7 linked regions of the Homo sapiens genome follow. The protein of the gene in region 1 purifies or fractionates together with the protein of each later gene. This does not show direct contact. Each region holds a gene or a part of one and is shown in the gene's direction. Other genes may lie near its edges. The genes, in order: SLC19A1, CNTN1, SYPL1, TDRKH, GPC4, DSG2 and SLC20A2.

Region 1 (4,113 bases):
GTTATTCAAATTGCTTGCCCGTAAAGTGTCATTTTTCTCTGGCCACTTCCAAGATTTTTTCTTTATTTTTATCGTTAGCTTATAGAAGTTTGAATATGGTATGTGTTGGTGTGATTTTGTTTGGGTTTTCTATTTGGGGTTTGCTCAGCTTCATGAATCTGCAGTGTACATCTCACCAAATTTAGGAAGTTTTCAACCATTATTTCCTGAAATGCTTTTTGAACCCCACTCCTTTTCTCCTCTTTTTCTAGATCCCCCATGTCACAAATGTTAGATCATGTTGTATAGTCCCACAAGGAATGAGGCTTTGTTCATTTTTTTTCAGTCCATTTTTTCTTTTGTTCAGGTTGGATAATTTCTATTGTTCTACCTCCAGTTCATTGATCATTTCTCTGCCTCTTCTATTTTGTTGTTGAGATGATTCATTAAGTTTTTAAATTCTGATTATTGTACATTTCAGTTCTAAATTTTTTTTATTTCTCCTATTTCTTTGCTGAGACTGTGTTTTTTCATTTGTTTCCAGCATGTTTGTTATTGTTCACTGAAGCATTTTTATGGTGGCTGCTTTAAGATCTTTCTTGGCGAATTCTACTGTCTGTGTTGTCTTAGTGTTGGTGTCTATTAATTGTTTTTCAGTTTGAGATCTTTGTGGTTTAGTGTGCCAAGGGATTTTTTAGTGAGATGCAAGCATTTTGGGTATGATGTAATTTCAGCATCCTGTTGTGGCTGACGCAACTCCTGCAGGTCAAGCGGGGTGTGCACCTCGCTACAGGCAGGTGGGGTGGAAGTCCAGGCTCTCACTCAGCCTTTGTGACACCTGAGGGAGGGTGGGTGGCTGGGTGGGGGCTCCTTCTTGTTGCCAGGCAAGGATGGGAGTCCAGCTCCCCTCGTGGCCCCCTTGATGCCCCTGGGGTTGGGACATTCTCATTATTGCTGGGTAGGTGAAAGTCTGGACTCCCGCTTGACCTCCTCTGACACCCCCCAGCATGGAGGGGGACAGGACAGGCACGCTCTTACTACTGGGTGAGGATAAGAGGCCAGGCTCCCCATATGGTCTCTGCTGACTCCGTGAGGCTTCGGGGGTGACTAGGCTCCCCACATGGTCTCCACTGACTCCATGAGGCTTTGGGGGTGACATCTTGGGCTTCCCTGTGGTCTCTGCTGACTCCTTGGGGGTGAGGGTGGGTGTCTTTACCAACCAGTGGGAGTGAAAGCTCTAGTGCCCACTGGTGTTGTCTGACACCACCCCGCAGGGGACTCGGGGGTCCTTGTTACAGGCTGGCGAGGGTGGGGGGTCCTTGCTGACATGGTGGGTGGAGCCGAGGTCTGGTGTTTGCGGGGAGCAGGGCGATTCCTGTCGAAAGGTCTTTCCTCATGTTGGGCTGACCCTTCCCTGGGTCTTAGGCCAGAGAGAGCTGCTTCCATGGGCTCTTTTTTCTGCATCTGTTGTCTTTTCCAGCCTGCTGCCTTCTTCAGTTTCAAAATATCTGAGGTGAAAAGAAAAGCCCCCAGGGAGCTCTGCGTGGCACAGTCTGTCCTTGCGTGGCACAGCTCCCCAGACCCCGAGGGCCCGGCCAGTCTGCCCTTGTGTGGCACAGCTCCCCAGACCCCGAGGGCCTGGTCAGTCTGTCCTCCTCGCTCCTGCTTTCAGAGTCTTCCCAGGTGTTTATCTCAGTGTCTTGGGTAGGAGAAGAGCAGGGAGAAGCGTGTCAGCCCCATCTTCCTCAGTTTGCTTTAAAAACAGCTGTCCTGGAAGGGTGCCGGTGCCGATGGGCTGCAGGGATTCTGGCCTGCGGATGTGGAGCTGGGGCCTCAGGGGTCTTGGGCGGGACTCACTGGGCTCTGCCCACGGATGTCCTGAGGGCACTGCAGCCTCCTGAACCCTCTGCACCTCCGGGAATGATCAGGTCCCTCCCTGGTGTCCCAGGGACATCTCCAGTCCCTCCTGCCCCTGGCAGCTGCGAGAATCAGGAGAGATGTGGCCAACGCTGGTGCTGCTCCTTCTGGTCATCGTAGCACAGCTTCCGCTGCCGAGATGGAGACGGGCTCCATGTGCAGGCTGCTGGGGGTTGCTCTGGGCGCGAAGCCCTGGGGATCAGCTCCTGGTCACCTGCTGTGGCTCTCCTCACCCTGCTCTGCCAGGCGGGACGTTCTGGCCCTCATGGGCACCCTTCCGCTGTCTCAGCACCATGGGGGGGCAGCAAGCACCACCAAGCAGGGGACTCGGGAGCAGACACCGCAGGCCACGCAGAAGCAGGCCACCTGCCAGGTTCCGAGGGGTTCTTGGGAAATGGTGGGAACCCCCCTTCAGGCCTGTGCCAGGTGGTGGAGGTCGGGGGGGCTGTGGTGAGCACTGTGGCACCTGCTCCTGGGGCTGGCCTCTGACCGCTGTGCAGTGTTCAGGGTCAGCCTCTGAGCTGGAGGAGGGTGAGCCTGGGAGCAGGCGTCGGGGTGTAGGGTGCCAGTGTCCCAGCCAGGCCCTCCCCACCCGCCTCACCCGGCCTCTCTTTCCAGTTCCAGTTATACTCCGTGTACTTCCTGATCCTGTCCATCATCTACTTCTTGGGGGCCATGCTGGATGGCCTGCGGCACTGCCAGCGGGGCCACCACCCGCGGCAGCCCCCGGCCCAGGGCCTGAGGAGTGCCGCGGAGGAGAAGGCAGCACAGGCACTGAGCGTGCAGGACAAGGGCCTCGGAGGCCTGCAGCCAGCCCAGAGCCCGCCGCTTTCCCCAGAAGACAGCCTGGGGGCTGTGGGGCCAGCCTCCCTGGAGCAGAGACAGAGCGACCCATACCTGGCCCAGGCCCCGGCCCCGCAGGCAGCTGAATTCCTGAGCCCAGTGACAACCCCTTCCCCCTGCACTCTGTGCTCCGCCCAAGCCTCAGGCCCTGAGGCTGCAGATGAGACTTGTCCCCAGCTGGCTGTCCATCCTCCTGGTGTCAGCAAGCTGGGTTTGCAGTGTCTTCCAAGCGACGGTGTTCAGAATGTGAACCAGTGACTCTCGGGCGCCCCTGTGGTAACTTTGCAGGCGGCCCTCAGTGCATCCCCACGACCCCTGCCTCGAGGGCCGCCTGCCTTAGCAATGGGGGCCTCCGCTTATCCTGCTAGCAGGCCCCCTAGGATTCCCCCTGCCCTGTGCCGCACTCTGGCGGTGGCCACAGCGTGCTGGCGACACTCAGGGCAGCTGCCTGGCCATGCTGTCCCTGCACTGTGCCCCGCGGGCTTTGTTGCTGGAAGAGGTGGGTGGTGGGCTTCTGCGTCCACCAGGCCTCACTGGCTCATGCCCCTTGGGGGGCTTGAGACAAATCCTTTCTGCCCCCCAGGGCTAGTGAAGTGGCCTCTTGGATACCAGCTCAGGGGACACTGGCCCCACAGGAGTTGTGAGCCCTCTAGGGCAGGGTGGGAGCCGGGACCCTCAGGTGTAGCTGAGCTGTGACATTGCTGGTCATCCTTGGTGCTCTTGCTTTTTTGAAAGATGCTTTTTTTTTTTTTAACTGACGTAGAATGAAGAACTGCATGTGGCTTCTCTGTCTCTGTGGAAAAGCCATCTCAGGTTGGCGGCAGACACATTGTCATCAGAGGGGAGCAGCGGCTCTGGTCCTCGGAGCTGGTTCCTCTCTCCCACCCTAAGGGCAGCCCTCCATGGTCCTGTCTGTCCTTCTGAAGTGTGTCCATCCTGACCTGCGGGTCCTCAGCTGCTCCCACACTTGTGCCAGCCCGGAGGGGACTGGTCCCGGTCACCGCGGACGTGCTGGCCTTGGTATGTGCCAGGCTTGCCTGGGCTGGGCAGCCTTGGGGGGGCTGCCTTTGTGGTGGGCGCTGGGGAAGTACGTCCCAGCGGCCTCAGGGTCTAAGGAGCGCTAGTGCCTTGCCCACAGGTGCGGGACCATCTGATGTGATGTGAATACTCTTCCCACATACATTAAACACACTTAAGTGAGTGTGCGCAGGGCTTCTGATTCAGGGCCGGCCTGGCCTGGGGGTTGAGGGTCAGCAGTCAGTGAGGAGGCCAGGAGAGGCGTCCCAGCCTTCTCCCGCCTCCAGCCCACGCAGGGCCTTGGTGCCCATGAGCTGAGCACCCCCACAACCCTAGTCAACGGCCCTATCCTGTGGG
Region 2 (4,425 bases), on another chromosome or scaffold:
ATCAAATGAATCTACAGTGACGGGATATAAGGTATATACAAATAGTGATGATTAATGTTTGCAATTCTTGCTATTTCAGTGAAACCCAAGATGGGTTTCTTTTCTTTTTTTGAGATGGAATTTTGCTCTGTCACCCAGACCGGAGTGCAGTGGTACAATCTTGGCTCATTGCAGCCTCCACTTCCTGGGTTCAAGTGATTCTCCTGCCTCAGCCTCCCAAGTAGCTGGGATTACAGGTGCCCACACCCACACCCGGCTAATTTTTGTATTTTTAGTAGAGACAGGGTTTCACCGTCTTGGCCAGGGTGGTCTCGAACTCCTGACCCCAAATTATCCACCTACCTCAACTTCCCAAAGTGCTGGGATTACAGGCATGAGCCACCACGGCTGGCCCCATTCAACTTTCTTATTCTATTTAATAGTTGTAGAGCAGAATCAGATAACGTAGTGCCATGATACATTTTGAAATGGAAAACATTATCTTCAGTGAATTTCAGCAAAATGTTATGTCAAAAGTGTAAGATAAGTAGAATACTTTAAAGATAAAATAGAATAATCAGAGCTTAAGGAGGAGAGAGAACGAAACTATTTTTGTTTGGCAATGATTATGATAGGGTTGCCCAGCACCCAGAAAACTCCTTGATAAACTGAGTTACTGTTTATAAATGAATAAAAAGGAGAAAAGCTTATTTTAAATATATTCTTTATATCACACACTATCACATTTTTCACTGGATACCAAATTTTATGGAAAATGGTAAAAATAAAAATTGAGAGACAATTTTCAGACCATTTCAATATATTTTAAAAGTTCTCATTTTGGACTTTTTTCTTAAAAAGACTCATTCTTTCTATATTTTTATTTTGGGTCATCTCAAAAAATAAAATTCAGATGCTTAAGTCACATCTCCTTGGATAATCCTACAAACTTGCAAAAATCAACTATTGTGAATTGAAACTAACATGATTTTTTTCATCTAGTTTTAAATTTAGTTTTTCCTCTTGTTTTAAATTTATTACTTTTTGTTAATCAAAGTATAAGCATTTTTATTCTGGTTTTAGTGTTAGAGCATTGGCTCATTATTATGACTTTACTGCATATTTACATTTCTGTACTTTATAAGGTACTCTACAGACCTGATGGCCAGCATGATGGCAAGCTGTATTCAACTCACAAACACTCCATAGAAGTCCCAATCCCCAGAGATGGAGAATACGTTGTGGAGGTTCGCGCGCACAGTGATGGAGGAGATGGAGTGGTGTCTCAAGTCAAAATTTCAGGTAAGTGAGTCATTTAAGACACATTTCAACTAAGTACTTGTGAGTTTCTAGACCCTGTGGATTCCCAAGGGTAGGGATAAGCCTGATACACCAGTGTCCATATTTTCCTAAGTAGATTGGACATATCAAGGATTCCCTGAAACTTGGTATTTCTCCTCTTATGAGTCACAAAAGTAAGTCTGTGACATACCACATACTTCTTGATTATTATCTGGATGTCAAAGCACAGTTGAAATCTTTCAGACATAAGACGAACGAGTTTTTGGGATCCAATATACAGTATGGAACATATTAGTTTATTTGATTGTGGTAATCATTATACAATGTATACATATATCAAATCTTCATGTTGTTCACCTTGAATATATTTAATCTTTGTCAGTTAAATATTTTCAAATAAAAAGCACAATTAAAATGGCATAATTTATTGAATACTATATAATACTAGGCTATTATTTAATAATAACCAAACTTCTATCAAAAGGAAATACACTAGGCTATTTTTAATACTCTTATAACTCTTTCACTTGGACTATAGATATTGATATAGTAGTAAAAGAGAAAAACACTAAATTATAGCCCCTTTGTCTTTTCTCTTTCTCTATCTTATCTATTCCTTTTCTACAAACTCTATTTCTCACACCTTTGTTTGATTTGGAAATACATATATTTGAGGCAGTCATTTCTTTTTTTTTATTTCTGGCAATCTGTTATTTAATTTTTGACATATTTTTCTTAACCTATATGCATGATATAGTTTAATTATACTGAATTTCAATAGATGTTAATTTGAGAAATGTATGAGAGGCTTTGACATTACCAGAAGATCCTAGAACAAAGATGATAATAAATAATTTATAAGAAAATTTGGTTAATCTGTACAACAAACCCCATGACACAAGTTTACCTGTATAACAAATCTGCACATATACCCCTGAACTTAAAATAAAAGTTAAATTTTAAGAAAACTAAAAAAAAAGAAAATTGAAAATTTGGTGATTTTGATATAAAGAAATAAATATGCTATATATTAAACCAACAAAAAATCCTTTACCACAATGCCAGAGTATTTAATGGTATTTAATAAATGCTGGCTTCAATTGTATGCCATGTTTTTGTGAAGTTTGCCACAATACATATATACATCCTTTACAAATCAAAATAGAACTTTGATTTTTTTTAGTTTAATCATCAGCAATTTTGTCTTTTAAGAAAATAGAGAAATTACAGAGATGTGAAAGGAAAAGAAAATAATCATGTTCCAAATACCCTAAAATAGCTACTGTTAATGCTTAGTTGAATTTACTTATAGTCACTCTGTATACATATATAATTTCATGTTTCAGCTTCCATTTTTGTAAATTATTTAAAAATTATAAATGATATTCTTTCAAACAAATATGCAAACTCATTAAAGTTTTTTTCTATCATAAATAATACTTTTAGAGTCCATTTTCATAAATTAATCTTTCTTCTGGTTAAATTTAAGACAAAGTGTTTTAGGTTGCTAAATTTCTTCAAAAACACTTACTAATTTCTATTCCTATTATCATTGAGTATAAGTGCTTTTCTCACTGTACCACTCTAATATTATTGTCTTTTTAGTCATTGCTAATTTGACAGGGGAAAATAGAATTTTCTTATTTTTGAAACATTTTCTATATTCAGAACTTTGTCAACATCTTCAATAGTTTTACACTTAGTGGGCAGTTTCACAAAAGGAAATCAGAGGGAAATATGGCCATTATTTCAAGGAAGGTAAAGCACAAATAACTAAATAAATTGCTCTTGAACCCTGGGCCTTCTTTCTCTTGTGTAGAAGCCAGCCACAGCGAGCTTTTGCTCTCTGTACTCACCCTTGGTTCATCATTCCTCACCGAAAGGAGAACCTAGCTTCTGGGATTTAGACTAGAGGTTTTCAGCAAGAGATGATGTAGCAGTGATGGTAACATCAGTTTACCTATCACTAATGGCACTGGTAAATGTTAAACAGTAGAATCACTAGGGATAGGGGAAAGCCCTGTTTATAATGTTTGCCTGTTTCTGTGGTGTAAATATTCTCATTATGTGTGATTTCAAGCTTTCCAAGTGATGTCACTTAATATGGAGCTGTGAAGAGCTACCCAGTAGCACATCATTATATGTAATTGCCACCATACAGGTATAATAAGAACCTAAAAAACATTTGACAACATTATAATATAGTAAAATATTAAGAAATGATGGGTTTTGAGTATTTACTACATTTGTTTTAAGCTTTTAAATTTAAGTTTACATAAATTCTATTTTAATAATTACATTTTTAACACATTGCTCATACATTTCCTAAAAATTTAACAATTGGATTTCAGGGGTTGTATCGGTTGATTTCAGCATACCACAGCTGTAATTTGATATTTCAGTATATATAGCTCATGTATAGAAGAGTATTTTTTTAATCCCAAACTTAGGATATTTTTCATATTTTTCTCTTTTTGCCAACTAATGGACAACATTCTTATTGATTTTAGAATTTCTATTATTTATCTCTTATTCTGACCATAACTGTACAAATAAACTGTAGAATTAACGTTATGAAATGTCAGATGCTTGGTGAATAACACCATTCTAGAATATTCTTGTTTTTAAGTTTGGATTTTCAAATCATTTAAATTATTTTAATGAGGCAAATGTGTAAATACAAACAGAAATTACAGGTTTTTTTCTAAATTTAAAAGACTCTTAGTACTTTCTTTTGGTTTTCATGCCCTAAATACGTAGCCAGGATTATAACACACTACTAGATCTTAATGTTTATAAGCATTATGCTGTTTGTTCATTCATTCATTCAACAAATAGACATTAAATGCCTACAATACAGCAATCACAGTTCACATATTTAAAATGTGCTAAGATTTACATATTTCCACATCTCTGCCTGGCCCTGCTGCAATTCTAATGATCCTCTTGCCTCCCAGTGTTGGCCTCTCAAGGCCTATTATCTATGCAATAGACAGGGGGGTTTTTTAAAACACAAATCAAATCATATAACTCTCCTGTTAGAAAGATGGCTCACAGGGAATGGTGTGAACCCTGGAGGTGGTGCTTGCAGTGAGCCGAAATCGCGCCACTGCACTCCAGCCTGGGCGACAGAGCGAGACTCCG
Region 3 (4,425 bases), on another chromosome or scaffold:
AGTGCAAAATTTTATGGACAGAGCCACAATATGCATCTACAACTTAAGATGCATGTTTTACTATGTCAGTTAGTATCTTAAGGTATATTATATACTCAGTGCAAATTTTGTTTATATTTTTAAATCCTTGCTTCAGATACTATTCTGATAATTTTTTATTGTTGTGCCACCGTCTTGTGATCTGATTAAGTAGTCTGTTTTTACCTTGTAATATGGCTGTTGATTGTAATCATAGAGTAGTATGAATGCTTCCATTTTCTCTTTTATACATGAGTGTGTGTGTTACCAATCTATTTCTTTGAAGACATTTTAAAGCCATGGGTCAATTTTGTGAAGGTTGATTTGGTTAAAACTAGACAAATTATTCCATAAATCCAGGCCCACTCACATTGTAATGCATGAACACTAAAAGTGAAAGAATAGATGAGGTTATCACTGTCTGTCCTTCCATGTATGAGATTCCCCTTACCTTCAGGATACCCAGCATGCTGTACTGACATGTGACCTTCTGATGTGCATGCCCAGCATGGGTTTCAGTGGTATATTAATTGCAATAAAGCTTCAATTCCTTATTTAAGTCTGAAAGTAGATCTAAATAGAAGTTTACATATTTTCTTCTGGTACTCCAGTCTACTTTGGAGACTAGTGCTCTGGAAAACCAGGCTGTACTATTCACCCTGAGGTTACAATTCTCTGAATAAGATCTGCCATGGTGGTCATCTAGTATGGGTCTGGTGGGCAGAGAAGTAAGTGGGACTGTTTCTCTGGATACTTGGGGCTGTATGTGAACATGTAACTTTTCTGACTAAACAGAAGCTTGCTGTCACCCCGCCCCTGGATTCTTACTAGTCACTGTGCAGATAGAATTCCATGTCAGTAGTTTCAGTCATTCTTCATGGGGTAGGAGTATATGGGAAAATAAGTTTCAAAAGTGGCCAGAAAATATAAATCAGAACACCAGTACTCCTTCATTTTAGACTAGGGTTGGAAACTGAAATGGTCATAGGAACCACCCTCTAAAGTAAATGAGTGAAGCAAGATGTTTGGAAGAAAAAGAATAGTATGTCATTGATTACTTACTGGCAACTAACACACATCCTGAGGGCTGTTAAGACAATGGAGAAGCGGATAACCTGGAAAGCACATACTCTGCCATAAGTGACATCTGTCACTCAGTTCTCTCTGATTGTTGCTTTATGAGAATGTAGGTCTGATGTTGCCATTCTTCAGCTTTCCCATACACACTCAGGAAAAGCAGGAAATCCAAATTTTTATGTGTAATACCCTGATATTAAAACAATGACAACAAATTCACATTTTTTTGTAATACTGGAAAGGCCACACAAATATATTTGCAGGCCGGGTTTTACCAACAGGCTGCCAGTATATAACTTCCAGTCTAGATCAAAATAGCAGTAGAATATAGGGAGAAGTGAGATAGTTGGATATTTTGCCCTCATAATTTTGTACTTTGTTTAATATAAAATATGTGCTTTTGTCCCTTCTTTCTATAAGATAAAGACCAGAATTGCTGTCATGATATTTATCTATCCTTATAACAAAAAGCTTTAAAATAATAATTATGTAAGATTCAAAATATGGTTTTATTTATAAGTTATTGGAAATTATTTTTTCCTTAATTAAGTAGTTATTTAGTGAGCATCTGCTATGTGCCAGGTTTTCTGCTAGTCACTGAAAATCCTAAACAAAACCAGGTGCAAAGACATGACAGTCTGGCAAAGGAGCAGTAGAAGTGATAGTCTTGAAAGCAACAAGCTGTAGTGCAGTATGCCATTTATTTGCTACTTGTTATATTAGGAAATTCATTTTTCCATTTAATTTTTTTATTTTATTTTATTTTTAAGACAGGGTCTCACTGTGTTGCCCAAGCTGGTATTGAACTTCTGGGCTCAAACAATCCTCCTGCCACGGCCTCCCAAAGTGTTGGAATTACAGGCATAAGCCACTGCACCCGGCCCCATTTTATTTTTTAGAAAGCAAGTTACACAAGAAAAATGCCTATAGTAGAGTTCATATATAATAGAGTTAATGTCTATGATAGCTCAAGAGAAGAATCATGAGTTCTACCACAGGGAATTGGGTAGGGCCTTAAAAGATGAGCTAATCAGAGACAGGGCATTCCCAGAAGAAGAAGCATATACATTTAAGACATAAATACATGGTATGTTTCAGGAACAGTAAGCAGTATAATGTGACAGAATCATACAGTACCTGGCAGTGAATAGACTGCAGATAAATCTATCTAGAAAGATAAAGTTGAGGATCGATCAGCCATGCCTTTTATGCCAAATTAAGAAGTTGGAGCATTTTTTGTTTAATTTAGGTTGAAAAACAATTGAGGAAATTCCTTTAAATGGGAAGGACATGATCAGATTTTTATTTCAGATCAGTTTGGCATCATTCTAAACTAGCTCTGTCCAGTACAAAAAAATACAATGGGAAGCAAAAATGCAAACCACATAGTAATTTTCAGTGTTCTATTAACCACACTAAAATAAGAGGAAACAGGTGAAATTAATTTTAACAATATATTTTACTTAACCCAATCTATCCAGATTATTGTTTGAACAAGTCGTCAATATAAAAATTAATGAAGTATTTCACATCTTTTTCATAGTAAATCTTCAAAATCTAGTGTGTATTTTGCAGTTGGAGTATATATCAATTTAGATTAGTGACATGTAAAGTGTTCAAGACTCACAAGTAGCATTACTGGGTACTGCAGCTATAGTGCCCACATTATAGAAGATGAGTATCAATTGGAATGAAATTGGAAATGTGAGAAAGAGTCTGCTGGGTTAGTCCCAATGAAAAATGGTGAGGGCCTGAACAAAAATAGTGGCAGGTGTAATGTAGGCAGGTAAACAGAGCTTTTTAAAAAATGGTTTTATAGTCTAGGTAGTCATATGCAACATGGTTTTTATTTTGTTTTTGTTTTAACTCAGCATTGGATTTCTATGATTCATCTATGTTGATGTAGGCAGTTGTAATTCTTATATCTTTTTTGCCGTATAACTTCCCAGTGTAAGAATATACTATGGTATTTTATCCATTTCCCTGTTGCTTTTCCCCTCCCCATTTTTCATGAACATTCTTATATGTCTCTTAGTACGTGTGAGCAAGGGTTTCTCTTAGATCTATATACTAGTAAATCCTTTGTGACATTATGTTTATTATAAATATGTTCATCTAATTGGTAGCTTGTTTTACATTCAACAGCTGACTTGATTAAGATTTTTTTTCTGTAGTTGAATTTAACAATCTTTTATGGTTCTTTTTTACAAAAAAAAATCTTAAATTCTCCCTTTTCATGTGGTCACAGGTTTTCTTTTATATTGTCTTCACATTTTTTAAAGACTTTTTACTTTTGTGTGCAGCTCATCTGGACCATTTACTGAACAGCTCTTCCTTGTATTAGTTATCTATTGCTGTATAACAAATTACGCCGAGCTTAGCAGTTTAAAACAAAGGTCTGTTGACTTTTATTAAGTGAGATAATAAACCTCACCCATTCTTCTGTGGGTCAGGAATCTGGGAGCAGCTTAGCTATGTGGTTTGGGCATAGGGTCTCCCATAAGGTTGCAGTCAAGCTGTTGGCTGGGGTTGCTGTTATCTCAAGGCCTCCAGCTTATTCTCATGACTGTTGACAAACCTCAGAGGATCCCCTTCCAAGCTCAGTCATGTGGTTACTGGCAGTCCTCAATTCCACACCATGTGAGTTTATAAAAGTTGCCTGAGTATCCTCCCAACATGGCCACTGGCTTCCCCCGGAGAATGAGAAAGTTCGAGAGAGTGAGAAAGGAAGACAGAAGTTGCAATCTTTGGCCGGGCGTTGTGGTTCAAGCCTGTAATCCCAGCACTTTGGGAGGCCAAGGCGGGTGGATCACCGGAGGTCAGGAGCTCGAGACTGGCCTTACCAACATGGTGAAACCCCGTCTCTACCGAAAATACAAAAATTAGCCGGGCATGGTGGCAGGCACCTGTAATTACCCCTGCTACTCAGGAGGCTGAGGAAGGAGAATTCCTTGAATCTGGGAGGTGGAGGTTGCAGTGAGCCAAGATTGCACCATTGCACTCCAGCCTGGGTGACAGAGCGAGACTGTGTCTCAAAAAAAAAAAAAAGTTGTAATCTTTTTATAACTGAGTCTCAGAAAAGACATCCCATTTCTTCTACAGTACCATATTCTATTCTGTAGAAGCAAGTCACTACATTTAGTTGACACTCAAGGGAAGGGAAATCAGGCTCCATCTCTTGATGGGAGTTGTATCAAAGAGTTTGTGGGCATATCTTTAAAACCACCACATTCCTTTCCTCCGTGATCTACAAATCAACTCTGTTAGATACAATTTGTCTTATACACACTAGTCTATTCCTGGCCTTTTTATTCTGCTCCATTGGTTCAA
Region 4 (4,425 bases), on another chromosome or scaffold:
CTCCTGGGCTCAAGCCATCTCCCACCTCGGCCTCCTGAGTAGCTGGAACTACAGGTGTGCAACACCACGCCTAGCTAATTTTTTTTTTTTTTTTTTTTTTTTTTTTTTTGTAGAAACAGAGTCTCACTATGTTGCCCAGGCTAGTCTTGAATACTTGGTCTCAAGCAGTCCTCCTACCTTAGCCTCTCAAAGTGCTGGGATTAACAGGCATGAGCCACTGTGCCCAGCCTGTTTTGGTGTTTATGTTTCCTAGACTATGAATATTTCCAAGTAGAAATTCTTCTTCCTCCTTCTGTCCCCAACGTGCTCAGCACACAAGAAAGAGCTAGCACTATTTAACCAAGATGCATTAATAATGGAAACAAGCTTTGCACTTTAGTGGTCATATAAGAAAATACCTAAGCCAGGCGCAGTGGCTCACGCCTGTAATCCCAGCACTTTGGGAGGCCGAGGTGGGCGGATCATGAGGTCAGCAGTTCGAGACCATCCTGGCCAATATGGTGAAACCCTGTCTCTACTAAAAATACATAAATTAGCTGGGCATGGTGGCAGGTGCCTGTCGTCCCAGCTACTCATTAGGCTGAGGCAGAAGAATCGCTTGAACCCGGGAGGCAGAGGTTGCAGTGAGCTGAGATCGTGCCACTGCACTCCAGCCTGGGCAACAGAGTGAGACTCCGTCTCAAAAAATATATATATCTAAAGTAATCAGGGGACAAAAGAAGTCAAATTCTTTCTAGACACCAAGAATAAACCATCTCAATGTAGGAAAGTAGCAGTTTGGGAGGTGTGTATTCAAGAATTATTTAAGTCAAAAATCTCCTTTATGAAACAACTTGTTTCCTTTCCTTTGGTATATACAACGATGCTTATATAATACCATCCAAACTTTCAGGATGGTGAAAGCTTTTATTTGCAGTGTATTTAAAAAAAGAGAAGCTTATCCAATGACTTGGGAAAAGAACCTCATAAATGAAAACAAACAGCCTACATTAACCTCAACCCTTTCTGTCCTACATTCTAAAAAGGTCGGGAGAGAACAGTATTCCCTCAGATTGATAGTCTCTAAAAATGATATACTGAATTCACTGAGTAACTAATGACCCAAAATAGACGACACCCTTGAAAAGAGGTACCCATCCCCCACCTCGGGTAGTAAAAGGCCGTTTTATTATTTGCTCAGGCTTTTGAGTCCGGGCAAGAAGGTGGATTAAATTTGTTTAAAACCAGGATATAGAAAAAATAGATTTGGCAAACTTCTGGTAGTTCTCTGAAGAACTTTATTCAGTTCTGTTGATCAGTAAAGCTGTGAGGCCAGATGCAAATTCTGGTCATCTGTATGACAGTGTAGTAGTCTACCCTTCTCCGTGGTTTTGCTTTCACTTACCCATAGTCAATCCTGGTCCAAAAAGATTAAATGGGAAGTTCCATACGTAAACAATTCTTAAGTTTTAAATTGTGCACCATTCTGACTAGCATGGTGAAATCTCCATCCTGGCCCAGACGAGAATCCTGCCTTTGTCCAGCATATCCATGCTGTATATGCTACCCGCCTCTTAGTCACTTAGTAGCCATCTTGGTTATCAGATTGAAAAAACCTATAGTTTTCAGTACTCCAAGGCATCCACTGGGGTTCTTGGAACATATTCCTCGAGGATAAGAGAGGATGACTGTTGTAAGAAATCTACCTCCAGCCTCCCTTACCTGACTATATCTGCTCCTCAGTGAGATTTCGGTGCTAGATGTTCTCCTTTCTCTCTTTACTCTTCCAGATTGACTGTGCTTTCCCTGAAAGCCTAAGTTTTATTCCACAGTAGGTTTTGTATTAATGAGTATGTTTTTAGCCTTACCAGGATATAGCCAGTTTTTCCCCCCAGGGTGAAATACATTTTTGTTTATTATAATTATTTGGGTTGAATTTTTGTACCTGGAGGTAAATTATGGCATAAGTTACATTTACTCATTTTTAAGCAAATCTTATTTAAAGCCAGCTTGCTTTGTTCTACTAGATTGTAATATCTGGAAATACAGATATTTAGTTTTCAGTTTTTTATCACCTATCTTTAGTTTTTTAGTCTTCAGTGTTTTTTTAACCACCTACAGTACTTTCTACCAGTATTAATTTTGAATTGAATATGTTGATCAAAATAAAGAATAAAAATACAGGTGCTGTTACCCTAAGAGCTTAGGTAAAAGGAAGAGTGGGGAAGGATTTCTAAAATCACTTTACAAGGTTTTTTACAAGCAAGAATAACCCAGACTCTGGGTTAGAGATTAGATAACCTCTTCAAGCATGGGTACTCTTCTATGGGATTAATATTTCCTGCCTTACAGGGTTATATGACTGTAAAATAAAATTATGTAATTTGCCTGGCATAGTAGCTACTCAACACATTATCTCTTCATTTTTGTGTCTTTAGTGCCACAGTAGCATCTAGCACATAGTACTTACTCCAGCTCTTGTGTTGAGAATAAACTGAATGGACAATGGCAAAGGCAGGAACGTAATTAAGCAATGCAGTAATCTAGGGAAAAGATAATGGTGTTTTAGAGCAGGGTCATAGAACTGCAAAGAGAAAAAGTGGTCAGATTCTGGATGATTTGAAGGTAGAGCAAATAAGATTTGTTGACAGGCTAGGTGTGCAGTGTGAGAGAGAGGATGACTAAGGGAGTAAGAGAATGCAGTCGAGGCAGAGCACAGTGGTTCACACCTGTAATCTCAGCACTTTGGAAGGCTGAGGTTGGTGGATCACTTGAGCCCAGGAGTTTGAGACCAGCCTGGGCAACATGGTGAAACCCTTTCTCTACAAAAAATACAAAAATTAGCCGGGCATGGTGGCATGCACCTGTAGTCTCAGCTACTGGGAGGCTGAGAGATGGGAGGATTGCTTGAGTCCAGAGGTTGTGGCTGCAGTGAGCCATGGTTGCGCCACTGCACTCCAGCCTGGCAACAGAGAAAGACCTTGTCTCAAAAAAAAAAAAAAAAACGAATTGCCATTTGCTGAGATGGCAAAGATTATGGGAAGGGGGTGAATCAGGAGCTCAGTGTTAAGTTTGAGATGTCTATTAGACATCAAATGGAGATCCATGTAGGCAGTTGAGAAAGGTCCTAAATGGATCTATTAATTTGGAAGTTATCAGCATCTAGATAGGAGTTAAAGCCAGTCCGTGAATGAGACTTGAGATCACCAAGAAAGTGAGGTAGAACAGAGAAGAGGGCGAAGGACAGATCCCTGAGGCACTCCAGTGTTTAGAGGTTAGAAAAATGTGAAGAAACCAGCAACTGGGAGACTGATGGAATAGCCAGAAAGGAAAGAGGAAAACCAGGAGGGTGTGCTATGGAGAATGTGTTTCAGAGAAGAGGGAATCATCAGCTGTGCCAAATACTGTGGGGACATCTGGTAAGATGAAAACTGAGAATCGATCTTTGGATTGAGCAGTATGAAATCATTGGTGACTCTGATGTGAGCAGTTAGAGTGGATTTAAGAAGAGAACTTGAGGACAGATATATTGACACTCGAGTTTTCCTTTAAAAGGAAGAAAAGAAATGGGAAGTAGTTGAAGTGAAATCCAGGAAGGGTTTTCTTTAAGAACAGAGAATGTTTGTCTGCTGATGGGACTATCCAGTAGAGAGGAAAGAAAACGTTAATCATGTAGTAGAAGCAAGGAGAACTTGTGGAGCAGTGCTTTTATGAAAGACTTCAGTGCTAGGAGCAGAGACAGTTCATCTGTGGTCACAGGAGAGAACAGCAAGCATTTAGGCACAGGTGGAGGAAGGTGGGCAAATGTGTAGAAGCTTGTGGATATTTTCTCTGAATGCTCTCCTTTTTTAGTGAAATAGCAAGGACCTCAGTTGAGAGAGGTTGGAGGAGGCAGCACGAGACGTTTGAGTGGAGAGGGAGGCTGAGAAACTATGTGGAATAAGGAAATATAATGAGGAACATGTTAAAATTTGCTTGGCAGCAAAATGAAGATACAGTGTCAAAGAGAAACTCAGCACAAAAGCCTGTAAGAAGTCCACTGCTGTGGTCTAAATAAGATTTGAGCTTCTGAATCAGGCCAGATGCAGCATTGTTGATGTCATTAGCATATAGGTAGTAATTGAACCCACATATGTGGATGAAATGGTCTAAAGAGAGCAGAGTGACATTAACAATTGATGGCACAGGATGAGAAGCCCAAACTTGGAAGGACCCTCCAGGGAAATAAGAGGAAACCAAGAGAAAGAGGGCACAGAAACCAAGGAAAGAGTTTTGTGGAGGGAGTGGCCACCTTCCTGCTACCGCAGAGAGATGGGTGAGATAAGGCTCCATGCATGACCTGTAGGTTGATTATCTGGGAAGTTACAGTTTTGGCGATGGAGCAGGGAAGAACCCCATTTCACTGTTCGTTAAGGAGTAAATAAATAGAAACCAAAAGTAGAGACA
Region 5 (4,425 bases), on another chromosome or scaffold:
TTGTTTTTTCATTGAAGTTCCTGAGGAAAGCTTCAGAAGAAAACTAGTTTGCCATTTGTAGTTAAGAGATTAAAATCTCTAACCTTAGGCTGTGGCTGTATGGTGGCCAAAAAGTAAATCTGAAATAACCAGGTATTCTCATTTACATTTTTCAGTTTTTTTCATGTTGTCTCATAAATATGCTATATTTATTATTAAGTCCATTATGCATGTGCTCTCTCTCTCTCTGTCTCTCTCTCTCACACACACACACTCACACACACACTATCAGAAGGAACATTGAAAAGAGTCTCATGATGTTATTGTATAAATCCTTTAGAAACCCAGGATCAAGCTGGATACTCCCAATTTGTACTACTGTCACAGAGAAACACCCAGGAACTTATTTTCAGAAAACTTATGTGCTTGCTTGTAGGGGTGTTTGATTATGTTTTTTGGCCTCAACCATTTTCCAGGCAGCTATAGTGCATGATCATATAGATAAGTGAAAAGGAGAAATGAAAAAAAAATTCAGGCCCAAGTAAAATAACGACTTTTGAAAACACCTGTCCTGCTCTTAGGTTACAATTAGAAGGCATGGTTAACTTTGGCTTAGATTCTTAAGTAAAAAGTTGAGGGAAATCTCATGTTTTAGACTTCATGTGCACATTTTTTCCAGTTTTTCTTTATTCACCTATGACAGAGAGAAAGTGAGAGAGAGAATGAGAGCATGTGTGTATTGTACTGACTCCTGAGAAGCTGTTGGTTTAAATTTTCATTTTTTTCCTCTCTCAGACACCTATGTAAGTGACTTTGTGACACAGCTTTCCTTTCATTGGCAAATGATCTGAGATGCCACATTCCCCAAAAGAAATTCACCCTATATACAAACACGTTTTCCAATTTAATTGTGTTTTTTTTCCAGTTTTCAAATTTACTGGAAAAGCAGTTATTTAAACACTGAAAACTCTCGTTTTTCCTTTTTTTTTTTTTTTTTTTGGTGTTGGTTTCAGAATTCTTCAAAGAACTACTTGAAAATGCAGAGAAATCCCTGAATGATATGTTTGTGAAGACATATGGCCATTTATACATGCAAAATTCTGAGCTATTTAAAGATCTCTTCGTAGAGTTGAAACGTTACTACGTGGTGGGAAATGTGAACCTGGAAGAAATGCTAAATGACTTCTGGGCTCGCCTCCTGGAGCGGATGTTCCGCCTGGTGAACTCCCAGTACCACTTTACAGATGAGTATCTGGAATGTGTGAGCAAGTATACGGAGCAGCTGAAGCCCTTCGGAGATGTCCCTCGCAAATTGAAGCTCCAGGTTACTCGTGCTTTTGTAGCAGCCCGTACTTTCGCTCAAGGCTTAGCGGTTGCGGGAGATGTCGTGAGCAAGGTCTCCGTGGTAAGTACTCCTTGTCTTCTCTGTTTTGTTTTTGTTTTGTTTTCTTTCATGTTAAAAGAATGTTTGGGAAAGGTAGAAAAATAAATCACCAAAATTCTGTTGGTTCAATGGCAGCCTTTTCTTCCTCTCTTACCTCTTCTCTCCCACACACTGTCCTTACACGTGTACATTTTAGAGTTACTAAACAATACTGTGATCAGAATCTTCACCTATCATTATTATTGTGGGGTTTTTTTGTAGCTATTCTTAGAAGGGGGAATATATGTTTACTCAGGAATCTTAATTTTTAAAGTAGGTTAATACTGCCATACCCATTTTAGCTCTTATTCTACTTCCTTTCTGCACAAACAAACATACACACACAGGCTCCACATTTGGTTGTTTTGTGTGACTGTCAGCCTACTAGTCATAGTCTAGGAAAGCATTTAATCTCTGTGAGCATATGTTTCCTTGTTAGAAAGTGTACTCAGAGCTCTTTGGAAGACAGGTTTCTACGACAATTAGTGTGGACTACACTGCTGTTGACTCATGACTCTGCAGAATTACCAATACAGAAAGTGAAATTGTAGTATGTGATCAGGAGCTGATGAAATGAACCTGTTTCCTCATTGGGAAATTCAGCGAATTGGACTAGATAGACTGTGTTCTTTTTTTTTGGGAGGTGGGGACAGGGTCTTGTTCTGCTGCCCAGGCCAGAGTGCAGTGGCAGGATCTCGGCTCACTTGCAACCTCCACCTCCGGGGCTCAAGCAATTCTCCTGCCTCAGCCTCCCTAGTAGCTGGGATTGCAGGCGTGTGCCAGCACGCCTGGCTAATTTTTTGTATTTGTAGTAGAGACGGGGTTTCACCATGTTGTTCAGGCTGGTCTCGAACTCCTGGCCTCAAATGATTCACCTGTCTTGGCCTCTCAGAGTGCTGGGATTACAGGTGAGAGCCACCATGCCTGGCCGATAGACTCTGTTCTTGAGCAGGATATTGCTTTAGGGGCCTCATTGAGCAGAAGCAACAGAGAAGGAAGTCTTTTGTGGGTGAGACCGTGCAACTGTGCCTTTATCTCCCAGTTCCACCAGAGAATCTTTGCTTTCTTTGACTTCACACAGCAGGGATCTGAGCAAGATTTCAAGGGGAAAGGGGTTCCACTGCTCCTTCACTGCCACTCCCCTCCCCCAAATGAAATCTGAAAACTTCTTGAAGACCCCACCACCTCTACCTTTCCATGAGTCAATACCAGGGAAGAAACATAAATATACTGGGGCAAAGTGATCTTTGCAAGGCTGATCTTAGTGCTGTCAACTTTAGGCCCTCAAAGGGAAAGCCAAATTGTAGGCCATTGCTAAAAAGCCTGGATGCACAACAACAGCAGATTCTGCTGAGGCCATTTGGTTGTTTTGAGGACTGGAAGAATGGACAGCATAAAAACTGGACAGCACTACAAACATGAAAATAGACACCTGATTGCCTCTCACAGTTTATCTACAGTTAGGGTGACCATATAATTTTTTATCCAAACAGGACACTTACTGTCTAAATCGGGAGGTGCTTATTAACAAATTATTCACAGACAACAGGTGTCACTTTTTTTTTTTTTGATAGAGTCTCACTCTGTCGCCCAGGCTTGAGTGCAGTGGCGAGATCTCCGCTCACTGCAACCTCCACTTCCCAGGCTCAGACGACAACAGGTGTCACTAATTTTTTTTTTTTTTTTTTGGAATCTCGCTCTGTCACCCAGGCTTGAGTGCAGTGGCGAGATCTCTGCTCACCGCAACCTCCACCTCCCAGGCTCAGACGATTCTCCTGCCTCAGCCTCCCTAGTAGCTGGGATTACAGGCATGTGCCACCACACTCAGCTAATTTTTGTATTTTTAGTAGAGATGGGGTTTCACCATGTTGGCCAGGCTGGTCTTGAACTCCTGACCTCAGGTGATCTGACTGCCTCTGCCTCCCAAAGTGCTGGGATTACAGGCATGAGCCACCGTGCTGGCCAGGTGTCACTAATTGTTAGTAAGCAACCAGGACTGTCGTGGACTGGCCAGGATACACGGGTCACTCTAGTTGGAGAGAAAACTTATATTCACCAGAGTGAGGATAAAGATTCTAAAGAATGGTTTATTATGAAAAATAGGTGCTCATGGGATTTTTCATATTAGAATTGGGTGATAATAAGGATTAATTGATTGATTGCATTCATTATGTTGTTTGTTCTCTCTCTCATCTCCAGGCCATAAACTGTCAGGAAACAATTCTTTCTAGTATGTTTTTGTTCACTCCTTCTTTGATATTTTCATCGTAAATTGCAAATATTTATTGGGGCATATGAGGGTGGAGTTGAGGGTAAGTGGGGAGATGATTGTTATAATTAAAGGAATAATATCTGATTCTTGAACTTCTGCCAACCCCAGCAACCATTATTAATCTTGGACATACTTTTGTCAGAGTCCCTAAAACAGTGCACAGTGAATCAGATCAAAGTTATTTGCATTGTGGTACACCCAGCACATTTGCCCTCCTTCAACAATTCCTCATGTTCATCCTCCACTGAAAGGGCAGAAAGACACTGCTGTGTGATTTGGACATCTGTGCATGCATGTGCATGTGCGTGTACACTTGTGCCAAAGAGAAAGAGAGTCAAGAGCCCTTTGCTAGTTTGAAAAGTACTTTCTTTATGTTAACCCTCTCCCCTTCCTTTGAGTTTCAGTGTTGATTCTTGGAGAAAAAGGGCCAGACAGCAGACTCAAGCCTGCCTTGGTGTTAGCCTCACTTTGCAAGGTTGGAGCTATTTTAGAGAACTGAACCTACAAACATGGATGGGGAGGGTAGCCAAACTGAGAAGTTTAGAGACAATTGATTGCAGGTTAGAGGATTGAAGGCTAGAAAAGGCTTGCCTTTGTTCTGCGTCTCCCTACCTCCCAGGTTACGGGGAAGTAAGCAGTTGTGCCTTCCCTGTGTTGCATTCTTCTGGACGTCGTTCTCAGAATTAACCATGGGAAACCAAGAAGCTTGACTTTGATATTTAAGATTCAGACACCCTTACTTATGCAACAA
Region 6 (4,425 bases), on another chromosome or scaffold:
GTCTAAAAAAATTTTTTAGTAAGATGAAATAAGCACCTAATTTCTCCAGTAGATAAATCTCACATTTCTACTTGGTAAGTGGATTAAAAGATATTACTTGGTCCAAATTTGAAACATATCTAGGATAGAAAATGTCCTAAGTGGTTAGTACCTTCTCCACTCCAAATTGGCAAGGGAATTCAAACTATGTCTGTTGTCAGCAATAGGAACAGAATGTACATACTTTTTCTCTCTTATTTTTAAGATTATCCTAGAAAAACCATCACTGGCACAGTCCTTATCAATGTTGAAGACATCAACGACAACTGTCCCACACTGATAGAGCCTGTGCAGACAATCTGTCACGATGCAGAGTATGTGAATGTTACTGCAGAGGACCTGGATGGACACCCAAACAGTGGCCCTTTCAGTTTCTCCGTCATTGACAAACCACCTGGCATGGCAGAAAAATGGAAAATAGCACGCCAAGAAAGTAAGCAAAATCACTGGACTACATAGAAATCTAAATATTAAGCATGATATCTAAAATATTTGTAAGTTGTATTTCTTCTCATAAATTATATTTCCAATATAGTTTTTTAAAGGAGTTTATGAAATGAGGTCCTGAACCTACTGACATATAGTATCTTTTATATGCTTATGGAGAGAAGAAAAATAATCTAAAATGTCTTGAAGGTAGCTGGGTATTCCCTAAATAGCCCTTGAAGTAGTTTTGTCTGGTAAGGTGAGGAGTACCAAGCCTTTGTCAGCACCACAATCGTAGTAGTTTGCCTTCTAAAAATCTTGTAGTAACAGTAATTCCATTTAAAACAACATTTATTGAGCACTTGCTATGTGCTAGGCATTCTGCTAGCCCACCCTATGTATTACCATATTTAATCCTTCCTTCAACATTATTCCCTGATTAAAGCTGAGGATACCTTGGTTTAACTGGGGGTAAGTAAAGCTCAAACCTAGAACATGATAGAAACAACATAACAGGGGAGTTATCTGATTCCCCCCTTCCCCATGTCAGTGGACATGTCCATATGTCCACATCCAGGACATCTAGACACATGGACCATATGATGTGTTGATGTGAGTTTTCAGATGTCCTTCAGGGTGGTTCTGAATGCAGAAAAGTCTATCCAGAAAACTATTTTGTTTTAAACAACTAGGGTTCATTTCAGTAAAATTTCAAAGACAATAGTCAGTTTTTTTTTTAATTTACAGCTTTATTGTGTTAAGTCTAGCAAATGTTTGAAATCATTTTAAGAGGGTTTGAATAATGTTTAGTCCAATTAACAAATTAAACACCATCAATATTTCAAACTGTATTTACAGATTTAATATATTTAGTTTCCTTATATATTTCAGTGATCTGAATTAACAAAACCTCCCAGCCAGGTGCGGTGGCTCACGCCTGTAATCCCAGCACTTTGGGAGGCCAAGGCAGGCGGATCATGAGGTCAGGAGATCGAGACCATCCTGGCTAACACGGTGAAACCCCGTCTCTACTAAAAATACAAAAAATTAGCCGGGCGTGGTGGCAGGCACCTGTAGTCCCAGCTACTCGGGAGGCTGAGGCAGGAGAATGGCATGAACCCAGAAGGCAGAGCTTGCAGTGAGCCGAGATTGTGCCACTGCACTCCAGCCTGGGTGACAGAGCAAGACTCTGTCTCAAAAAAAAAACTCCCTATGATCCTTATACTCTAAAATTCTAATAAATTTAACTTACAAATACACTGAGTTGTATATTACAGAATATTATCAATAACAAGTTGAAGCCGGGCATGGTAGCTCATGCCTTAATCCTAGCACTTTGGGAGGGTGAGGCGGGTGGATCACTTGAGGTCAGGAGTTTGAGACCAGCCTGGCCAACATGGTGAAACTCCATCTCTACTATAAATACAAAAATTAGCTGGGCATGGTGGTGGGCACCTGTAATCCCAGCTACTCAGGAGGCTGAGGCAGGTGAACCTGGGAGGCAGAGGTTGCAGTGAGCCAAGATGGCAGCACAGCACTCCAGCCTGGGCAACAGAACGAGACTCCATTTCAAAAAATAAGAAGAAGAAGAAGAAGTGTAAGAGTGCTAATGTTCCTTGATCTTAGAAGGTGCATGCTGAAGAATGTCGTGCTATCTGTAACTTACCTTGAAATAGTTAAGAAACTTTAAAAAAAAGAAAAAGTGGGTATATAGAGGGCAAAGAAAGCATTGTTGCAAAATGTAAACAGTTAGTAAGGGTTTGTTAATATTCACTAAAATATTCTTTCAACTTTTCTGTAGGTTTGAATTTTTTTTCCATTTTGAATGTATATAGTGTTGAGAACAAAAAAAGAAGGGACTAGAGAAAACAAGATCAGCCCATCATTGAAAATGATTAACGCTGAGGATGGGTACCATGGGGGTTATGCTCTTCTCTTTATTACTATGTTTGAAAAATTGCCTTAATGAAGTTTTTTTTTAAAGAAATGGTAAAATAAAGGTCATTCAGTAGAAATGTTAACTCACCACTTGTTTGTCACTGTATTCCCAGTGTATAGAACAGTTCCTAGCTTTCCTAGACCCACACACATTGGTTACAGCTAATCATCATGAAAGTAGGTGTCCAGGTCTGAACCTTTGCTATTTAAACTGCATATTCAGGGCCTATAGACAAATTTTAATGAGCACACTTCAATAAGTGAAGGAAGAACAAAGTACCTAATTGGAGTTAAATACAATCAGCAATGAAAGAACATTTGTGGAATTTAATGTTGCCTCATCCTTGGTAATCGTTCGTTTTTATTTCCTTCTGCCTCCCAACCTTGTAGGTACCAGTGTGCTGCTGCAACAAAGTGAGAAAAAGCTTGGGAGAAGTGAAATTCAGTTCCTGATTTCAGACAATCAGGGTTTTAGTTGTCCTGAAAAGCAGGTCCTTACACTCACAGTTTGTGAGTGTCTGCATGGCAGCGGCTGCAGGGAAGCACAGCATGACTCCTATGTGGGCCTGGGACCCGCAGCAATTGCGCTCATGATTTTGGCCTTTCTGCTCCTGCTATGTAAGTCTTTAAAAGCCACTCTGTTGTGCTTTTGGGAATCTGAGTGCACTCCTGGAGATGTGTTACTATGGTAGTCATTGATTTCTTCACAGTTATTCTTTAACCACACTAGAGCACTTTGAGGGTGAATAGGGAAACAACTGATGATTGGCAAATCACCAAAGCATAATATAAGACTCTTCAGAATTTTGTTTTATAAATGTATATCCTTTTCTGGTTTCAGTAACTTAGGAACTATTGGCATAAACTTCACTGGTATTCCCATTTTGATGAGCTCTGTGAGGGCAGCATGCTGTCTGTTCTCTTCACTGCTGTATTCCCAGTGTGTGGAACAGAGCCTTGCATGTAGTAAGCGCTCAAAAAAGATGTGTTGCATGACTTTGGGTTATGGGCACAAGGTTTTTTACAAACCCAGTTTATTCCAATCAATCCTGCTTTGTACATTCAACTTATCAGAGCTCCGCCTCCCTGATATTCCCCGCTTGCCTTGTTTCTTCGTCAGCACCAAAAGTAGGCAGACCCTCTGAGCACTTCCTGTCCTTCCTGACCGTAAGATGTTCTCAACCAGTCCTGCCTGCCCTACCCACGCTCCAAAGACCTCGGGTTTCCTTTTATAAAAGAACAAGGGACTGCATCCTGAGGTCACATGAAATATCACTCTACTTGACCACTGAATATGGACAGAGGGCCGCCTCCAAGGCAGCCTAGGCTAGTGCAGTGACAGAGGAGAGGTCTGTTAGACAAGGGGTCCCCAACCCCCAGGCTACAGACCAGCACCTGTCCATGGCCTGTTAGGAACCAGGCCGCACAGCAGGAGGTGAGTGGTGGAAGAGTGAGTGAAGCTTCATCTGTATTTACAGCCACTCCCCATCACTCGTGTTACCACCTGAGCTCTACCTCCTGTTAGACCAGTGCTGGCATTCGATTCTTATAGGAGCTCAAACTCTATCGTGAACTACTCATGCCAAGAGATCCAGGTTGCGTGCTCCTTATGAGAATCTAATGCCTGATGACCTGTCACTGTCTCCCATCACCCCCAGATGGGACCATCTAGTTGCAGAAAAATAAGTTCAGGGCTCCCACTGATTCTACATTATGGTGAGTTGTATAATTATTTCATTATATATTACAATGTAATAATAATAGAAATAAAGTACACAATAAATGTAATGCACTTGAGTCATCCCAAAACCAACCCCCCTACCCCTAACTTCCCTGTGGAAAAACTGTCTTCCATGAAACCAGTCCCTGGTGTCAAAAAGGTTGGGGACTGCTGTATTAGAGCCATTGGTAGATGTGCAATTGAAAGCACAGCACTCAACAGTCTGCAGTGTACTTTTATACCATCATCTCCATGCTATGGCTACATATACAGATACATAACGGTAAATGACTTGTCTCAGC
Region 7 (5,025 bases), on another chromosome or scaffold:
AACCGGTTTGTGCTTTGGGCAGCAGGCTGCAGATGGACAGTGCCTCCTGAGGGCATCGCCATGTTTTAGGGATCCATGTTGCAGGATACCTGTCTGCAAGAGAGAGTCAAGGAGGGCTTTTTAAGCCCCTGGGGTTCAGGCCTGGCATCTGGGTGTTAAGTAGAGTGAATCTCCTGAAGTCCAAACTAACATATGACATTTTAAAATGAGGAAAACAAATGGCTCTGAAAAGGTCTATAGGATTATAGGTAAGTGGTTAATACGGAAGATGTTATAAAGGTCTCAGGAGGAGATGGGGTGATCCAGGGTTGGTTGAAGTCGTTGAAATGGAATTACCCTGTCTTTTACCTGTCTGTGGGAAAAAAAAAAAAAGAGGAAAATGACATCTCCCAAAGATGCTTGGAGATTTGATTGATGTTTGTAAAGTGCTTTGATATCTTTCATAGAGTGTTCAATAAGAGCAAAATATGTCATCAGAACTTAGTCTAAAGCAAACTAGTCCCAAACCGTCTTGAGTAGATACTAAGCGGTTTTGTGTCTTTGTTATAAGTTGTACTTATATTTTCGAGAGAAAGTTTTTCATGTTCTGATTTTCTTTTAAGTGTCAGCTGTATGTTTGGGGTCTTTACCTGTTAACTTGAGTTCCAACATGCTTTGTAGATGGTCAGTCACCTACAGAGGACAATTTTTCTAGCCAAGGAGTTAAATCCACCTTAAAATGCTTCTTGCCAAGGACAATGCCTTTGCAAATATTTGAGATGTTTATTCTCAGTTGTGATTTATTACTGAATCTGTGTCTTCATAGCGACTCCTTGGGAGGTGCAGGAGGAGGCAGAGCCAGAAAGCAAGTCCCTGCAATCAGTTCATTATAGAGAAAGAAAAAGCTTTTATTTCAGGATTCTGGTGGATAGACTTACTGATATGTATATTCTGTGTCTATTTAATTTCACGTAGTGCTGCATCTAATCACGCTGTTTAAATAATCGGACAGAATGTCCTTTTGCTTTGCTTTTGCTTGTGAAGAGCACACAGCACTGCCACCTTGTTGCCAAAGTTTGGTCTGATTTGAATGTGCTTAAAAATCAAGTGAATGCCTGTTGGGAAAAAGCTTACTCCTTCTCTTTGTCAGTACTTGCAAAAACAACTTAAAAGAAGTTAGTATTATTGGACTGAATTCAGTAATTAGCATAATCATGATGCTATGTATTGTTCACCAGGGCACGCCCCTTGGCCGCATTTCCCATTAAGAGGACACCGATGTTGTCCTAGTGAATAAATCCCGGCACACATGATGCAAATCAGCGTGTTCCTGCCTGCTGCTTGGCTGCAGTTAATTTTAGCCGGGGTTAGTTCTATGAGTTGTAAAAGTAGAAGTTAGCAAGCTGAAATGTGACTTCTCGGCCTAATGTGGTAGGATATCTATTTTAGACTTCAGATTGTGTTTGTGATCAGGAGAGCAGTCTTCTGAAGAATTGTGGCTCAGTTTTCTTGGAAACTACTTGTAAGTACTGGGTGGAATTTTAAGACTTCTCTTTGTTCTTTTCTCCTTAAATCTTCCTAATGTTACCGTCATAGTAATGTTTATCTCTTGGGAAAACTGGAAGCTTTCAGGTTGGTACGTTAGAGAAAGCTAAGAGAGGTGGCAAAAGGTTTTTCTTTAAATGTCTCCTACTGCAATAAATCTGCCTTATTCAATTTGCCCAAGAAAAAGTTTTCGATTCTTACTTATTTTTGCAAAAGCAATCTGTAGATTATTATTTTATGTTAAAATATTTGATTAATGGATATGGTTTCTGTAAATACAGAAACATTGTATTGTGTCATTGAGCTTTGTTTTCTACTATGGTAACCTAATTCTTGAGAAAAAAATGTTGAAAGTTAATTCCTGTTATACTCTGTGCTACAAGTTTATTTTGTAGAAATAATGGAGTGTCAAATGTAATTTTCTTGAATGTATAGATGGACAGTTTTTTATCCTTTTAAGGGGGATTTTGTGCTTAAAAAATAAACCCATATATGCCTAAAGAGAAGCACTTTAAAAAATTAATTTAGGAAGAAGGTTTTAGAGAATAATTTAAAGCATCCTCTTTTAGACTGAGTTAGTTATCAAAAGTAACCAAAGGCCATGGGATTCTGTAACCTTAACTGCAGTTCATCTAACACATTATTACCAACTTAAATTTGTACTGAAGAAAACAAAAGATTTTGATATTGAATATTTTAAATTAAATTTGAATCATCTTGCTTATTTAGAAGTGTGTTTTCAATGTGGACTGACCTCAAGCCAAACAGTTTGCTTACAGCAGAGAACCAGGCAGGAATTTCTTTATCAATTAGCAAGTAAATGTATCAGCTTTAGGAATATTGTTATTAATAAAACAGTTCTCCTAGGCGATAGGATAGGTGCTCACCAGCTATCTATGCCTGTCATCTCTAGAGCAAGGAAGGAGGCAGGTCCACAGTTAGTATTGTGAAAGCCATTTTCCCATTTTGAAAAGATTTAGTTAAAGACTTCTTTGTTATTATGTATTGTCTGATTTTAAATGCAAATGACATAAAGTGTCAACAATGAAAGGAAATACTTCAGTGTTCCATTTAGTAGGAAAAGAGTGTAAGAAAGGAAAGTAGTACTGAGTTCTTGGGCTATTTTTAGAAAGAAACTTACTTCATACTTAGTTTTTATTGAGCTGAAGAGAAATTTGCTGCCCAGATGAATTATAATGATAACAGAAGCCTCTAATGTCATCTTCAGCAGTAAAAGGGGTTTTGCTCCGGTAATCCTTCATAATATATATTTTTATCCAAAAAATTCTGACTTATTGCTATTACTTCTTACTTCTAATTGTTAATAAGGCACCATCAGAATCTCAGTGGAGCATTTTTAAAGGTACACTGTAGTTGGGTATTAGTTTTCACACCAGTATTCACTTGACCTATTGTAGTTCTTAGTCCTGCAAAAGAGAAAAGCTGATTCGAATTTATCCATTGTTTAATTTCACAGACGTTTCTGTAGGTTTTTCTACTACTAGGAAGCATGTGCTTTATGATGAGTTGCTAAAATGCGCATAAACACTTGAGGAGTGTTCGTTTTAATGATTTACGTGCTGTGAGAGAGTGGCAGCGGTGAGTGAGAGCGGAGAAGGTTTTCATTATATAAGTGTTAGTGCCGGAATTCCTCGTGTTTGCCGGTGCTGCGATTCTCTTCGCTGCTTCTACCCCGTGTGCCTGGTGAAATGATGCTGGCTGTGACTGGTTATGACCTTGGGCGACAAATCATGATGAGCTCTATGCAGAGTCACACACTGGGGGTCCAGGTGCGGAGAAACAGGGCAGCTTTGTGGCCGCAGGAGGAGTCCAGGAGCCGAGCCCGCCTGCCCTTGCCCTGCTGTTCCCACGCCGCAGGTGACCGCACGTCTCCCCTGCAGTCCTGTTGGAGCCACTCTGTCCAGCTGCCCGTGCTCTCATCCTACTCCTCCACGTCTTAAAATAGTTACAGACCCAGAGGCTCTGACAGAATCGCTGCCGGTTGCAGATTTATTTCACTGTTACTTTCTGCCTAGAGGGATAGCCTTCTGCTCAGAAGCTTTGAGGGGTTTCTCAGGGACGCAGAGAGGAACCTTTTCTCTGGGACCTCTTCCCTCACATGAGGTTTTAATGGGTCTCTTGCCTGCATGGCTAAATGGGAACTGCGCTATGTAACAGGTTGCCTTTCGGCTTGGAGCCCGGATGCTCAGTGATCACATCCCTAGAATGTTCTCTCTCTAAAGGAAATCTTGTCGGAAGAGGCTGTGTTATGTGAGTTCCAGCTGTTCATCTAAAGTGGAAGGAGCAGTGAGCAGGAGGGATGCCTTCAGCTTCCGTCCGTCTTAAAAACAAGTGTAACATAATGGGATATGGCCCTCAGGAGGAAGGCTGATTTCTCGGGCATACGGGGTACTGCTGTCATTATTTAGCATGTATTAAGCACCCCACAGCACATGCGGTGCACAAGGAAAGCATAGTTCCAACCCACATGCTACAACAAGGCAGGACACAGAAACTGGGCCCCCTGACATTCAGTAACTACACTGGCAGAAAAAAAAATGTGAAAATGAAGAAAAGGGAAACAAGATGAGTGGGGTGGGTTGAGGATACTTCAGCATTCAGCTCCTCTGAGCTTTTGCCAAAGACGATTAGGACAGACAGCTGTGCCACCTGGGCTGTGCCTTCCCTTTCTCCTCCATAGCTGGGAAGTGATGGGGACAAGTGACAAGACTGACCCCAGAAGCCTTGCCCCCCACTCTCAGTCCTCTGTTGCAATCCTCCTACAAAGAGGAGAAGCTTCACAGTTTCACTTGCACCTAAAACTATTATTATTATGTGGAGGGGGTAAACTTGTTATAAAGTGCAATAAATATCAAAGCATCTTTCTCCATAAAATGATATTTAGATAGAAATCTGGAGTTCCAGATTCTCCCTTCCTGAACTGGTTTGCAATTCAACAAGTTACTTAACCCTGCACTGGTTTAGGATATTGAGTCAACTGTAATATTAGTTAGGGAAATGCCTTCAGCTTCTCAGAGGAAAGGCATTATGAAGGTCTACTGAGCATTATTGCAGCTTGTAAAGGAGTTAGAAGCACATGAATCAGAAGAAGGGCTGATAGGAAGGCTTGGGTACTGGGGAGTAATAACATGAGCGGCCTGCGTGGTTCTGTGAGTCTGTGAGTCCCTCCCCCCGTGCCCAACCTCAGCCAGTCTCTAAGGTTCTGGGTCTAGTTCATGGCTCCACAACAAAGAGACTTGGCTCCACAAAGAACCTCAAAAAAAAAAAAAAAACCAATTGAGGGTTGGAAAATGATACCTATGATAAGAGGGTAGGGAACTTCTATTATTTAGCCTGGAAGAGGAAACAAATGACCGGGAGACTCTTGAATTGTTCTTCAAGTATATGTGTGTCTCAGTGGCAAAGAATGGTGACCCACTGGTATCTATTTCCATCTAGAATAAAAGGGTCAGGTCCAGCAAGGGTTGGGCTGGAACAGAG

What was found.
Region 2: the proteins of SLC19A1 (region 1) and CNTN1 purify together in Homo sapiens (affinity purification with mass spectrometry; one large-scale study listed by BioGRID and IntAct). This does not show direct contact.
Region 3: the proteins of SLC19A1 (region 1) and SYPL1 purify together in Homo sapiens (affinity purification with mass spectrometry; one large-scale study listed by BioGRID and IntAct). This does not show direct contact.
Region 4: the proteins of SLC19A1 (region 1) and TDRKH purify together in Homo sapiens (affinity purification with mass spectrometry; one large-scale study listed by BioGRID and IntAct). This does not show direct contact.
Region 5: the proteins of SLC19A1 (region 1) and GPC4 purify together in Homo sapiens (affinity purification with mass spectrometry; one large-scale study listed by BioGRID and IntAct). This does not show direct contact.
Region 6: the proteins of SLC19A1 (region 1) and DSG2 purify together in Homo sapiens (affinity purification with mass spectrometry; one large-scale study listed by BioGRID and IntAct). This does not show direct contact.
Region 7: the proteins of SLC19A1 (region 1) and SLC20A2 fractionate together in Homo sapiens (co-fractionation; one large-scale study listed by BioGRID). This does not show direct contact.

What each region holds. Positions count from the first base shown.
Region 1 is NC_000021.9:45,514,542-45,518,654, reverse strand, and holds part of SLC19A1 (reduced folate transporter), read left to right. Parts: intron 1-2,514; coding exon 2,515-2,997; 3' UTR 2,998-3,502; coding exon of another isoform or gene 3,503-3,679; 3' UTR 3,680-4,113. UniProt on the Homo sapiens protein: Antiporter that mediates the import of reduced folates or a subset of cyclic dinucleotides, driven by the export of organic anions.
Region 2 is NC_000012.12:41,027,939-41,032,363, forward strand, and holds part of CNTN1 (contactin-1 isoform 1 precursor), read left to right. Parts: coding exon 1-31; intron 32-1,124; coding exon 1,125-1,281; intron 1,282-4,425. UniProt on the Homo sapiens protein: Contactins mediate cell surface interactions during nervous system development.
Region 3 is NC_000007.14:106,101,815-106,106,239, reverse strand, and holds part of SYPL1 (synaptophysin-like protein 1), read left to right. Parts: intron 1-4,425.
Region 4 is NC_000001.11:151,783,493-151,787,917, reverse strand, and holds part of TDRKH (tudor and KH domain-containing protein), read left to right. Parts: intron 1-4,425. UniProt on the Homo sapiens protein: Participates in the primary piRNA biogenesis pathway and is required during spermatogenesis to repress transposable elements and prevent their mobilization, which is essential for the germline integrity.
Region 5 is NC_000023.11:133,321,104-133,325,528, reverse strand, and holds part of GPC4 (glypican-4 precursor), read left to right. Parts: intron 1-992; coding exon 993-1,384; intron 1,385-4,425. UniProt on the Homo sapiens protein: Cell surface proteoglycan that bears heparan sulfate. May be involved in the development of kidney tubules and of the central nervous system.
Region 6 is NC_000018.10:31,535,958-31,540,382, forward strand, and holds part of DSG2 (desmoglein-2 preproprotein), read left to right. Parts: intron 1-244; coding exon 245-472; intron 473-2,793; coding exon 2,794-3,021; intron 3,022-4,425.
Region 7 is NC_000008.11:42,497,507-42,502,531, reverse strand, and holds the start of SLC20A2 (sodium-dependent phosphate transporter 2), read left to right. Parts: upstream 1-1,300; 5' UTR 1,301-1,501; intron 1,502-5,025. UniProt on the Homo sapiens protein: Sodium-phosphate symporter which preferentially transports the monovalent form of phosphate with a stoichiometry of two sodium ions per phosphate ion.